Homo sapiens: one gene and its partner. The protein of the gene in region 2 interacts with the protein of the main gene of each other region in a pairwise test. Each region holds a gene or a part of one and is shown on either strand. Other genes may lie near its edges.

Region 1 (3,500 bases), on a different chromosome or scaffold from region 2:
ATCATTTAAAATGATTAATACATTCAAAAAGAGTTCAAAGAACATTTAACTTGGAAGCATAAGGTGATTGTGACTGCTGGGATAAATAAAACAGATTCCCTTCTGTTGCTATCAGAAAGATATTTTCAACTACAAATCCGATTGGTTAGTTATGTGAATAATATTGGTACTCATCCTGAAAATGTGGGTTTTGTGCTGGCTGTGGAAAGACAAGAATGATACTCAGAACTAGAAAGAATGACATCATAATTCTCTCCCTTTCAATTCCTTCTCTAACTCTTCCTCCTCCTTCTTTGTTTGGTTTATTTAATATCTTTTATATTCAAGAAACTATCTGGTAGTAGGAATTAGATGATAGGAATGCAATGACACATAACTTCCTGATTTCTTAGAGTTTATAATGAAGTAGAAGAGACAGAAAGATAATATAAGGTACCATAAAAAATGGATAAAAACTTGCTCAATCATTATAGGGGACAGGAGGGACAGGAGGTTCACTCCAAGCTATTACTCTCTGGGAAGGCTTCATAAAGTGGTAGGACCTTTGAAATAAGGGTAGGACTGAGAAAAACGAAGGAAGGAAACAGCATTCTAGGCAACTTTAAATTTTTATTTGCTTGTTTCCTTGTAACCTATCTTGTTTCAGAAAGAGTTTAATAGCATAAATTAAAAGTGTGACAAAATAATTTAAAAATTGAGACATAAAATACAACCAGTAGAGTAAAGCTAAAATACATATTTGAACAACCTATGGTTTTTAATGTGAGAACAAAACTGAGTGTAAGCAATATAACATTTTGAGAAAATGAAAAACAGGTTTTAACTGAATTACAGTGTTCATTCATATATGATATAAACAGGAGGATAAGGAAAAGATGTAGAAAGTTTGAAATACCAAGGTAAATAATTTTGATTTACTTTTGTTGGCAGAAATGCACAATCATAATCATAACATTTTAGCTAGAAAGTACTTGGGACCTCTTAGCTGACAAGACTGTGAAAAGTCATTTTACCCATATTCCTTATTTTTTTTAATTTTTTAATTTAATTTATTTTGAGACTGAGTCTCGCTCTATCACCCAGGCTGGAGTGCAGTGGCGCAATCTCGGCTCACTGCAACCTCTGCCTCCTGGGTTCAAGCGATTCTCGTGCCTTAGCCTCCGGAGTAGCTGGGATTACAGGTGCCCACCGCCATGCCCAGCTAACTTTTGTATTTTTAGTGGAGACAGGGTTTCACCTTGTTGGCCAGGCTGGTCTCGAACATCTGATCTCAAGTGATCCGCCTGCCTTGGCCTTCCAAAGTGCTGGGATTACAGGCGTGAGCCACCGTGCCTGGCCCCATATTCTTTAATTTATATGAGAGTGCTATTCTAAAACTCCCTCCCTGACTGAAAGCGGCAAAAGGTTGGCCAGAGCAGCTCAAATATGAAAACTGAGGAAACGGAAACACACACACACACACACACACACACACACACACAGAGAGAGAGAGAGAGAGAGAGAGAGAGAGAGAGAGAGAGAGAGAGAGACGGAATGAATGAGTTCCTGGCAGATGATGTAAACTGTAAGCTTCTGGACCCAGCTTAAGTAAAGTAAGTGACCCTTTTTGCCTTAAGTCAACTTGGGTTGTATTTCCTATTACTTAAAACCAAGATAACCCTAATTAATAAATACTTAAATGAAGAATAAGCAATATTTGGTAATTATAAAGACAGTAGAAAGAGATGAGGTATTATGTCAAGGTTTTGTATGTGGGAGATTGAAACGAGGGAGTCTTGCAGTATAGTACTTCTGAGGAGGTAAGTAATTTCCATTTTATATCTGTTGAGTTTGATATAATAGTGATAGAAACATAGCCAAGTAGAAAAGTCAAACTAGCTTTTAAAACAACAGGCCGGGAGTTTGGAAGAAAGAACAGAGCAGTTAACTAGCAGGCATTTTCTTCATTTCTCACAAAAGAAAACTTGGAAACAGTTAAGTTAAGAAACTTTTCCAGGGGTTTACACACAGTGAGTACTGAGGATAGTATTTAAATAAGTGCACTCTGATCCTGGAATCTATACTATTAACCATTTTGCTATATGAGGAGTATATTTCAGATGCATGCACTTTTCTGACCCTGCCTGGGAACACTGAAAACTTGATGACTTTGTAGATTTAGCCAAGCCCCTTGCTTATGTGAGAAAAGTTGGCATGTAAAAGTCCTGTAAAATGTTGGCTGCCTTAGCAAGTGTAAGTATATAATTCTGTAATGACACTAGAAAAAGATGGTGGCTTTGAGATATAAGTCTAATATACAAGCTCATTTTGTGTAACTAATCACAGCAAACTTGTGCTGAACTTGTGATTTTGAGAGACTATAAAACTGGTCGTTATCATTGAGTTCAGATCAGATAAATACAGACTACAATAGTTTGTCACACTGACTGCAAAAGGCAATCCTTGGCAATTATGCCATATTAAACTGATAATTAAAAGTTTATGAATAAGAATGGTGACATATAACTTGAAACAATTATGCACTTAATAACTTAAGTCCTCCTTTCCTATTCTCTGCCCTCAAAATTAGAACTAAAGATTTCTAGATTGAATGTTCAGGGCAACTGGACAATTTTCTTATAATTTATAGGGAAAATCTGGTCCATGTTTGTTTACATAATCACTTGTTACAGATAATATATTTTGGGGTATTAGTGCATTTTTCTATTATTGTATCACTGTCCTCCAGGGTTTTGTTCTCCAGGTTTGGGTTCTTTCCTCTGATGTCCCCCTTAATAATATGTCACAGGTATGGAGTGAAAGTGTGTAGGGGAGGAGGAGGAAGTTTATCCTTCACCTGTAATGACGCTTCTACTCATTACTGAAATTGTTATTTGTTTTGTTCTGTTGGTCAGACAAGGTGTTTCACTCCAATTTGTCCTCACTTTAAATGTGAGATTTTGTATTAACTTTGCTAAGGTCTTTTGCCCCACTAATATTTTATGATTCTGAATTTAAAGCCAATATAATTAAAATAAAACTATTGTGTTATCAGTAAAAATCTTCACATTTACTGGGCAACTAAATGGAAACAAGTTAGGTTTATTTATATTTAGCATTTTTGGCCTTAAAGCAAAATTTATGTAAGATGCAAAGATAGGCTATGTATGAAAAATTCTATGTTAAGCCAGAAATTACTAGGTGTCTACAATTTGAACCATATGTGTCAGTAGCAGAATTCTTTTGTTTATTTGCAAAATGGTTTTATTGTCCAGGATTATACTTTTCTTGTATTAAGAGAATCATTAAGTGGCTCTGTGCCTAATACATAGACACTTGCCACTGAAGCTTTCAAATTTTTACTCACTTTAATTCAGCAAGTCAAGAATTCAAACATTCTCTTAATATTTACTAAAACTCACAGCCTAGAATTATTTTTGATTTAAAATTTTCAATCAAGAGCTCACAACTAAATCAAAGAATTTCATGAGGACGAATAAAAGCCTCATCTTACCTCCTAA
Region 2 (4,218 bases):
AAGTTGTCCAGGTTCTTGGCGTTTTGAACAAGGAATTGGACAAAACTCCTAGCAAAGCAAAGAAAGGATGAAGCAACAAAAGAACGAAAGCAGGGATTTATTGAAAACCAAAGTACACGCCACAGTGTGGGAGCAATCCGAGCAGCGGTTCAAGGGCACGGATACACAATCTTCTTGGGTCCCAGTACCCACTAGAAGTTTCCCTTTGGCCAGTTCATGCTTTGCAGAAAGCAACCAATCAGAGGCTAGGAAGAAGTTACGAAGTTGCAAAGGAAGACTCATCTGCAAACAGCCTGATTTGTTGGGGACAGGCAATTTCCCATCTGCTGCACAGAAAAGGTGGGGGTGTTGCAAAGGGAGTAGCCTCTGGTCCTTGTGTTACTTAGGCAAGGAAAGTTAGAGTTTTCCTTTCAATTTAGTCCTAGGAAGTTGGCGTGAAACAGCCTTAGGTTCCCTTCCTCCAGAACCTATTCTCCTGCCTCACTTTAAGTGGATAAATTATATGGTGTATGAATTATATCTCAATAAAGCTGTTTTAAAAGGGGGTGGTATAAGGAAGAATTCCAAATGATGCTATTTGCGTTTTTCCTTGGTCACTTTGGCTGGGCTCTGGCTACAGTGGATGAGGGATTCTTATGAAGCACTTGTGTAGCAGGAAGAAAAAAAAAATTTCCTAGCTATTGCCAAAGCATCCCTTGGGATCCCCTAACTTACTTGGGGATAATTTGGGATTCAGAAAGAGAAAAAAAAATAGATAACTGCCTTTGTTGAGAATTTCAGGGCAAGAGAAAACTAAGAAAAGAGGGCAGCGTTCTGTTAAAAAAAAAAAGGGATAGAACAACACTGTCCAACAGAAATGACTAAGAGACTCGAGAAGACTGATATTCAGATTGCAGTTACCCGCCGAATCACACTGTGATGTCAGCCTCCCTTGCTGTTACTCCCAAATCAGCATATCAGCAGTAGAACTCTACTGCTTTTTCTGTGTGGTATTGAGGGTTATGAAATTAAAGAGTAGGAACTTGGTCCAGCATGAGTTGCTGCAGTTCTGGAGACAATTGTAACAAGCTGCAACGAGAACTGCAGAAATGAAGAATGAGAATTGAGCAGAAATCAGAGCTATCAGTGATCAAGGGGGCCTAAGCCCCTGAATTCACAGTAATTTTCCTTAAGGATATGGCCGGGTATTTGGATAAATCTATAGATATTAGAGGACACTGACTTATATATGCTTGAAGCCCAGAGTTTCTGGCTTATGACATGTGCTGCAGGTCTGAGGGGCATTCATTTACAAAACTTTGATGATAAGGGGAGCAGAGAATGTGGAAAAACAGAAAAGAGGTAAATGAAGCCAGTGAGACAGGAAGGGGCATTATCTTCAGCAACAGGAATGCCAACAGCAGTCATCAATATTTATTGAGCAGGACAGGGGAGAGACACAGTTTAGGGAGGCTTCTCCCGGCTGACTCTTGAACCAAGCCCATAAAAATTGTGATGCTGACACCAGAAAATTCCAGTGAAAAGGCACAGTCAGGAAATGCTTTAGACTACATGGCCCAAGGGGCCCTTAGAGATCCTTCAACAGCCTCTAATTTGTCACAGACATGAATCCCCACTCACTGGATGTTGGAAAGAAGATTCAATCACAGAGTTTCCTTCAGGCAAGTCAGGTGTCTTTATAACTCTGCAAAGTAGAGAATCAAGAAGAAGCTGAGATTTTTCCTAAGTGGAGAGAGACCTAAATGGAAGTTCAGGAGGGACAACGGACTAGCACTCTTGTCCTTGTTCGCTGGAAGGAACCATCAAGTTGATGGGGATGGACATTGGGATAGATTTTGAGAGCAAGAGAGAACAAAGAAAAGGGTTGGGAGTGGCGGTCAGAACACATCTGCCTAGAACCTGGTTACCTACTTTGTAACATGCAGAAGTTGTACTTCCCAGAAAGGTGAGGGACCTGCCCCGGGAGGAGATCATCAGGACACAAACATCAGTGACAGGAAGAGAGCGTGTCCTTCTCACCTGCTTCTTGAAATTGCTCTTTGGTTTCCACCACTGGGAGGCTATCGGTTGCTTTCTTGTGTCTTCTGGTGCTCTCTGAAGTTAGGAAGTATTTAGAAGAGGAAGATTTGTGCTTCCAGGTCCTCCACCATCTCCCCAAACCCAGAAGCACAAGCTCCAAAAAAGTAAACAAGAGACAGAAACCGCTGACTCCAAACATGGTCTTTAGGAAAATGGTCTTCTCAGAGGGGCGGGACAGATTGCAGGTTATACTACCAAGGCAAGGTTCTCGGCGACATGCAAAGGAGCTGGGCATCTGGAACCCATACAGGTGGTACTGCAACCCCAGGGCTGCCCCCTCCAGGACAAGCCGAGCCCCCAGCTGAGCCACATAAGCCCAGAGCAGCCTGAGGCTTCCAGCCCCTGGGACATCTGTGTTGCCCTCCCGTCCCTGGATCAGGGTCTCCTCCTCCTTCCCCTTTCCTGATAATTCCCAGTGCCAGATCACGTGATACAGAGTGAAACCCATATAGAGGGCGCTGGGTACAGCCACCAAGATGACCTGGAAGACCCAGAAACGCAGCGGGGAGAGGGGGTGGAAGGCATCGAAGCAGGCAGCCTTGCAGCCCGGCTGCTGGGTGTGACACACGAATTCACTCTGCTCATCACCATAGACTCCAGGCCCACTGGCAGCCAGCAGCACAAGGCGGAATCCCAGGAGCACGGGAAGCAAGAGGCGCCCCACGGGGGTGGAGCGCCGGCTCTCCTCCGCCAGCAGCCGCCGCAGGAACCTGCCACACATCCTGTTTTGGAGCAGAGGACAAGAGATCAGTGTTGTTCACTGTCCTTCAGAGGGAGCTCCAGTCCACCTTGTCACTCCTAATCCAAGGATCACTGAAGGCAAGCTTTTTTATTCCTCTCCAAGTATCTGACTGATTAAATACCAAGACTCTGATTGCACCTCTTTACTACTTAATGAAATCATCTATGTAAAATAATAACAGTGAGTGTGTGTGGTGTGGCTCTCTCTTCTGCCCTCCCCTTCTGTACTGCTGGAGTGGAGAGGAACTCTCAGGTTGGAGAGACCAGGATACATCTTCATCTCTCTCTTTCCCTCCTTCCCTCCGTCTCTCTTTCCCAAAGGCTGAACGTAAGAGAGTAGACTGGGATGTTTTGTTAATTTTCCTTTGAAAGGTATTGCTTCCCCAGCTGATGGCTGCCAGGCCTGGTGCTCCTACAGCATCATCTTAAGCAAATTAGTGCTGATGCTGAGAGGGAATGTGCATTCTCTTGCGGTCTTCTTTTCTCTTCCTCCATGCCCTTGGATGATCACAGGTGTGTCTGGATGTCCTCTTCTCCCATCACAGTGGTAAAGTTGAGAGGTAGTTAGGTTATGGGGCTAGATGTGATGGATGAAATGAACAGAGCAAGCATCGAGGCTTGCTTTAGTCTGATGCTCTTAGGCCTTACAAGCTGAGGAAGAAGAGAACATTTGGAAGGTAACCCAGCAGAATTTACCAGAATTACATACTATAGGATTTGGGGCCAGAGCCAGAACTGACTAGATAGAAATTCAGATTTTTGACCCCCACTTGCCATTGTTCCTTGGGCATATTATCTCCCTCATGGTGACAGGCGACCATGATCAAGGATAAGTTTCAGAAATCCCTCTGTTCCCCAGCCAAAATACCACAATGCTACAAGCCCAAGTTCACCATCTCTATATTTGTCCTAATCAGCTGCCTTCCCCAATGCCCAGCAGCTGTTTCAAACCGTCCCCATTTAGCCTAAATTCTCACTCATCTGGTTACCCTCACACTCAGAAGACCATGTGGTATGGTCTGAATGATGATCAAGATGCATATGCTAGAACCTAATACAGTAGTCCCCCCTCTTATCTGCGATTTCACTTTCTACAGTTTCAGTTACCCACAGTCAACAGAGGTCCAAAAATATTAAATGGAAAATTCCAGAAATACAAAATTAATGTTTTAAATTGTGTGCTGTTCTGAGTAGCACTATGAAATCTCACACCATCCCACCCAGGATGTGAATCATCCCTTTGTCCAGGGTATCCAACGCTGTAGACGCTCCTTGCTGGTTTGTGACTTAATCGCCATTTTGGTTATCAGATCAACTATCAATACTCGTTCAAGTAACTCTTATTTTACTTAAGAATAGCCCCAAAAAGCAAGAGTAGTGATGCCAGCATATTGTTAC

Evidence for each region. The genes of interacting proteins can lie anywhere in the genome.
Region 1: the proteins of GJC3 (region 2) and MS4A13 interact in binary tests that used the Homo sapiens proteins (3 or more experiments, as listed by UniProt).

The regions. Positions count from the first base shown.
Region 1 is NC_000011.10:60,525,392-60,528,891, reverse strand, and holds part of MS4A13 (membrane-spanning 4-domains subfamily A member 13), read right to left. Parts: intron 1-3,500. UniProt on the Homo sapiens protein: May be involved in signal transduction as a component of a multimeric receptor complex.
Region 2 is NC_000007.14:99,926,821-99,931,038, forward strand, and holds the start of GJC3 (gap junction gamma-3 protein precursor), read right to left. Parts: upstream 2,801-4,218; coding exon 2,020-2,800; intron 1-2,019.